Regions from separate parts of the Homo sapiens genome. Here region 2 is reported to be linked to region 1. The links are microRNA targets in miRTarBase. Many come from high-throughput screens and were not tested one by one. Region 1 holds a microRNA gene; the other region holds the end of a gene's coding sequence.
Evidence for each region. Region 1 holds the annotated microRNA hsa-miR-8060 (CCAUGAAGCAGUGGGUAGGAGGAC, at 2,377-2,400, shown strand). A microRNA usually pairs through its seed, bases 2 to 8, with sites in the 3' UTR of a target mRNA and lowers its output. Matches are read on the target gene's strand: a 7mer-m8 pairs with bases 2 to 8, a 7mer-A1 pairs with bases 2 to 7 and ends in A, and an 8mer does both.

Region 1 (3,525 bases):
CTTTAATCCATCTTAAGTTGATTTTTGTGTAGGGTGTAAGGAAGGGGTCCAGTTTCAATCTTCTGCACATGGCTAGCCAGTTATCCCAGCACATTCATTCAACAGGGAGTCCTTTCGCCATTGCTTGTTTTTGACAGCTTTGTCATAGATCAGATGGTTGTATGTGTGTGGCCTGACTTCTGGGCTCTCTATTATGTTCCATTGGTCTATGTGTGTGTTTTTGTACCAATACCATCCCGTTTTGGTTACTGTAGCCCTCTTGAAGTCAGGTAGCATGATGCCTCTAGCTTTATTCTTTTTGCTTAGGATTGCCTTCACTATTCCAGGTCTTTTTTTGTTCCATACAAATTTTAAAATAGTTTTTTACTAGCTCTGTAAAGAACATTATTGGTAATTTGATAGGAATAGCATTAAATCTATAAATTGCTTTGGGCAGTATGGCCATTTCAACAATATTGATTATTCCAACCCATGAGCATGGAATGTTTTTCCATTTGTTTGTGTCATCTCTGATTTCTTTGAGCAGTGTTTTGTAATTCTCATTGTAGATTTGATTATTTTTGTGGCATTTGTGAATGGAATTGCATTCCAGATTTGGCTTTTGGCTTGACTGTTGTTGGTGTATAGTAATGCTAGTGATTTTTATATGTTGATTTTGTATCCTGAAATTTGATGAAGTTGTTTATCAGTTGAAGAAGCTTTTGGACCAATACTATAGAGTTTCCTAGATATAGAATTCTGTTGTCTGCAAACAGGGATACTTTGACTTCCTCTTATCTTATTTAGATACCCCTTTATTTCTTTCTCTTGCCTAACTGTTGTGTCCAGAACTTCCAATACTATGTTGAATAGGAATGAGGTGGGAGGACATCCTTGTCTTGTGCCCATGTTCAAGCGGAATGCTTCCAGCTTTTGTCCATTTAGTATGATGTTGGATTTGTCAAAGATAGCTCTTATTATTTTGAGGTAGTTTCCCTCAAAACCTAGACTACCTGATCTTCAACAAACCTGATAAAAAACAAGCAATAAGGCAAGAATTCCCTATTCAATAAATGGTGCTGGGAGAACTGGCTAGCCATATGCAGAAGATTGAAACTGGATCCCTTCCTCACACTATAAGCAAAAATCAACTTAAGAAGGATTAAAGACTTAAATGTAAATCCTAAAATTATAAAAACATTGGAAGATAACCTAGGAAATATCATTCTTGACAAAAGCTCCAACAAAAATATTAGGATGATGATGCTAAAAGCAATTGCAATAAAAACAAAGATTGACAGATGGGCCCTAATTAAACTAAAGAGCTTCTGCACATCAAAAGCAACTATCAACAGAATAAACAGAAAACCTACAGAATGAGAGAAATAACTGCAAACTACGCATTTGACAAAGGTCTAATATCCAACATCTGTAAGGAATTTAAAGAAATTTACAAGAAAAAAAGCAAACAACCCCATTAAAAAGTGGGCGAGAGACATGAACAGACATTTTCCAAAGACACAAATGCAGCCAACCAAGCCTGTGAAAAAGTTCTCAATATCACTGATCATTAGAGAAATGCAAATAAAAACTGTGAGATACCATCCCACACTAGTCAAAATGGCTATTACCCAAAAGTCAAAAAATAACAGATGCTGGCAAGATTGTGGAGAAAAGGGAATGCTCATACATTTTTGGAAGGAGTGCAAATTAGTTCAGTCATTGTGGAAAGCAGTAAGGCAATTCGTCAAAGAGCCAAAAAAGGGACTAAGAATTGACAGCAAACTTGTTACTGTATATATGCCCAAAGTAATATAAATTGTTCTGTATAAAGACACACACATACGTGTATGTTCATTGCAGCACTGTTCAGAATAGCAATGACATGGAATCAACCTAAATGCCTATCAATGGTAGACTGGATAAATAAAATGTTGTACATATATACCATGGAATACTATGTAGCCATAAAAAGAATGAGATCATGTCCTTTGCAGGAACATGGATGGAGCTAGAGGCCATTATCCTGAGCAAATTAATGCAGGAACAGAAAACCAAATATCACATTTCTTATTTACAAGTAGGAGCTAAATAATGAGCATGAACACAAAGAGAGGAACAACAGAGACCTGCCAGAGGGTGGAAGGTGGGAGCAAGGAGAGGAACAGAGAAAATAACTATTGAGTACTAGGCTTCGTACCTGGTAATGAAATAATGTGTACAACAAACCCCTGTGACACAGTTTACCTATAAAACAAACCTGTATGGTACCCCTGAATCTAAAATAAAAGTTTGAAAAAGTAAAATAAAAGTAAAAATAAAAGCATAAGTGCATATAAATCAATATAGCATAGGTTTAAATCCTGTTTTTCCCACTTACTATTCTGGTCAGATATCCCATGAAGCAGTGGGTAGGAGGACAGGAAAAAGCTCATACGGCCACTAGAAATACATGTGTGACTAGGTAACCTCATATTCGAAATTCATAGTTTACCCGTGAGAATTTGATTACTGAAATGGAATAATGATAAATAATACAAAATAAATTAACTATGGAGATGTTACCTTAAAAAAATGTTGGGGCTAGGTGCGCAGATTATATACAATCATTGCTTCTTCCTCAGCTACTGGGCTTGAGGTTGGCAAAGCCAATGGTTGTGAAGGAATGGTGAACGTAAAGTGAGGCAGGGGGAGCAAAGAGAAATGGAACCTTCAAGGAGGAGCCGAAAATTGGGTCAGCCTCTCATTGCCTCCTTGCCTTCATCCCTATGTTGCAGATGAACTTCAGGAGAAGCTTTCCTCACAGAGATAAGCACAGACTTGAACCAGGATCCAAAGAAACTCAAGGAAGGGATGCAACAAAACACGGAGAAATTGAGAGCCTGGCTACTAATGCTGCAGTGTTGCATGCTCTGGCCAAGGACTTAGAAAAGCTGAAGGAGTATAATCAGTGAGAACTGGAAGAACTCTAAGGTGAGCTGCTTTTTCACAACAACCAATAAGCCAGCAGATCAGTGACAATGTGCACAAGCAGTAGAAGCTTCACAGCACCCTGTTCCAACATTCCCAGTATACAAAAATATGGCTGCCCTTTACATGCACATTTCAAATTATGCACACAATTTGTTCTGTGGCTAATACTGTATTGGAGCTATGCAGCAAAGCTTATGCCTAGAACATTTCACTACTAATTTAACTAAGTTGACTTTTTTTTTTTAATCTTTTGGTTTTTGGTCTGCTTTCAGACCACAGCAATCATCAACACAGAAGACTGCTGTTATAAAATGTAGGTGGGTGGGGTTCTCCTCACCACCAAGCAAGCAATAAATTCTGCAGCGGACATTAACTGGGTGTTCTACAATTCAGTTCCAACACTAGCTAGAGATAGGATCAGATCCCTCAGATTGAGAGTTCAGTCCTGATGTATGCCCCCCACTAGAGATCTATTACGAGTCCTAGACTCCAGAACTTCTGACCAACCGTCTTCAAGTCAAAGTTTCCATGACTCCATCTTTGGCTTTCATTAATTTTCTGAAGCAGTTCAAA
Region 2 (3,000 bases), not on the chromosome of region 1:
GATCCGCCCACCTCAGCCTCCCAAAGTGCTGAGATTACAGGTGTGAGCCACCAAGCCCAGCCTAGAGTTGCTTTTCCCTAACTTCATGGACCAGATCTGGAAAAAGTGCAGAATCACAGTGGCCACTCACAGGGCTGTTGGGACTTCGCGCTGATGCTCAGACACTGGCCCAGTCCTACTGGCTCCACACGAGGGAGCTCGGGTTCAGTGGCAGTAGTGGGAGAGCTGAGGCAGCACGGTCTGGTCCTGAGGAAAGGGCCGCAAGAGCCTGGGAGTGGTTGTGTTTGGATCGTTGAGTTGGTGCTGCATGGTGTAGCGTCAGCTGCATGCAGGGGTCTGGGGGTTGGGGAGTGTGGGATGCCTGGTGTTCTGTGCTCCTGCCCCTGAGGCCCAGGATCCAGCATGGCAACGGGTCCCAGCAGGGAGGGTGTGGGTGTGGCAGGGGTGAAGTGGCTTCAGAGGCAACTGTTGGCCTTTTCCTGTGCCCAGGACTACCCCATCACAGATGTCTGCCAGATCCTGCAGAAAGCCAAGGAGCTCCAAGACTCAAAGTAGCCCGGCGGCAAGAGGCCCATGTTCCGGAGAGAAGCCTCCCGACCCTGTGCCCTGGCTCCCGGGACACATAGAAACCTGTAGGAACCCAGCCTGAGGGGAAGCCACAGGATCGGCCCGAGACCCAGGCCATGCCCACTGGGGACACACTGTGCCGTGCTCCTTCTGCCGCCACGCCCAGCTCCCCACCTGCCCTGCACTCTGCCCTCTTTGCCCAGGATACTGAGGAGGGCTGGAGCTCGGGAAGTTGTCCTTCCTGGGCCAGGGCCGTTTCTGGCACTGGGAGGCTGGCAGGGGCCCCTCCCTGCCTCGGCTCTGCCGCCCCAGCCTCAGTTCCTGCTTCTGGTCTTCTCCTGGGCTCCACTCAGGGGAGGTGCTTGGCCAATGGGCCAGAAACCGCTTCTGAGCGGGGCACTTCGGCTGCTCCACAGGGAAGGCGACACTGAAAGCTGAGTCCTGCCGTCTGTCTCACCCACAGATGTCTGTAGTCGGTCGGTGTGAATGTGGGCCCAAGTCCCCAGGCATCTTCTCCGTGTGTGTGTGTGTGTGTGTGTGTGTGTGTGTGTGTGTGTGTGTGTGTTAGGGAGTGAGGGTCTCTCAGGCCTCCAGGTCTCCCAGCCCCTCCTTCTCTGTCTCTACCTCTCTGCCTGTCTCCTTCCACCTCCTTCCCAGAGTGGGACTGTGTCTTGCTTCATGATTCCTCTCTCCATTACTCTCCCTGCCCTTCTCTGTTGGGGTGCCTTATCCTGAGCCACCTCCTCTCCCCGCTTGCCTCTGCTCCCCTGAACCTGGGAGACAGATGAGGAGACTGGCTCAGCAAGGCCCCTGGAGGTCAAGCTTGGCCTTTGCCTCCTGTTCCCATCCCCCAGCCCTGGCTCCTAGGTCCTCCCAACTGGGAGGGAGTCCTCCGTGCCTCACTTAGAGGGTTCTGAACCCGTTCCCTACACAGAAATCTTGGAAACCAAATGCTGCTGAGTAAGGATGAAGCTTTGAGCCTCCTGCCCCTGCTTTCTGCCCAGGGAGGGAGAAGGAAGAGGGGGAGCTGGTTTTTCTGGAGGTTCCCCCAGAGGCCCTCCTGTCCGAAAAGAAAAGGACCTTGATTCTGAGCCCAGGGTCGGAACCCATTGCTTCAGAAGAGTTGTCATTCCCTCGGCTTCCAGGTCCCAACCCAGGGTTGGGTTGAGTGAGTCCCACAAAGGGCAAGTGGGGCCCGAGGAAGCCTCTCTGGGGCCAGGGGTAGCTGAGCTTAAAGGCCCTGGGTCCTGCCAGTTCCAGGAGGGCCATGTCTGTGCCTCTGTGTACCCCTCCACCCGCTGCGGGCTGAGGGAGGTGCAGGGCCTTCTCTGACCCCTGCCTGAGCTGTTCCCAGGGCTGGAGCAGGTGTACCCTGAGCAGGGGCAGCTGGCCACTCCCAGTTCTCACCAAGTCACCTCCCTCCTTGTACAAGGTTTGCGTCCGGAAGCCGGGTGCCATAGTGAGGACCCTCGTCCTCCAGACTGGCTGGCAGGAGTCAGGCCCCAGCAGCCCTCCTGCCCCCAAAGCTTTCCGAGTCTGGTGGGCAGGACTTCTCGCTGCCCTTCCAAGCCCGGCTTTGGGCCAGGAAAGGCTTCCCCAGGTGGCTCTTCTACCAGGCTTTTCCTTTGATGCCGCCTGGATTTCCGCACCTGCCTGTCTCCTCTCCCAGAGCACAGTATTTGGGAGACTTTGACTATTTATTCAGACTCCTGGCTATGTATTGCACATTGGCAAGTGCTCTGGGGATGAGGCATGGGTATAGGAAGGGAGAAAGGAGTTGGAGACAAGATCCTCTTCATTTTCCAAGATCAAAGTCAGCCTCTTCTCCCCATGCTTCTAGGAACTGCCTGGTTTTCGAGCAGGTCCTGGCTGAGCGGGCTCTGAGTTCTGTACTGGAATTGAGTGTAAAGATGGGAAGAGAACTGGGCTGACTCCAGGACCTCCAGGATGAGGCAGAGGCATGATGCTTCCTGCTCACCTGGGCCACCCTCTCTCCAGGACTTGTCAGCTGGTGGTTCAGCCCCTTCTCCAACCCCTTCATAAGCTTGGGCCACTGCCTGGGACCCAGCAGACACTGCCCAGGACTCTTTAGTGCACTCACTCTTGTCTGCCCCCTACCTTCCCTCCTGGAACCACACTACTTGAATCACCATTACTTTGCCTCGCTGGCAGAGTTGGGTCAAGTGCCCTCTCCTTGACCTTGAGATGAAGGTCAAGAGCACAGGGACCAGGCCTTGGTTAGGCTGAGCTCCCAGCAGGACACCGCCTGCAGAAAGGACCTGCCCTGATAATGTCCCTTCCCCAGATTCTCAAGCAGATGCCCAAGGGAGGTCCCCACAGAGCCAGAGTGCCTGAGGCTTCCTGCTTGAGAACCTGCCCCCTGGATCTTGGACACTTACAGATTGAGCTGTATGAATTCAGCGGGTCTCACTC

Region 2: miRTarBase lists TBC1D13 as a target of hsa-miR-8060. Seed matches in the 3' UTR shown: 8mer at 1,242-1,249.

What each region holds. Positions count from the first base shown.
Region 1 is chr3:96,357,630-96,361,154 of GRCh38, forward strand. It overlaps MIR8060 (microRNA 8060), which reads left to right and starts at 2,335; the gene lies at 2,335-2,410.
Region 2 is chr9:128,807,325-128,810,324 of GRCh38, forward strand. TBC1D13 (TBC1 domain family member 13) reads left to right here. Exons shown (of 12, transcript NM_018201.5): 12 at 490-3,000. The coding sequence ends at 555. Among named protein-coding and RNA genes, the nearest start is that of ENDOG, 9.7 kb to the right of the region's middle.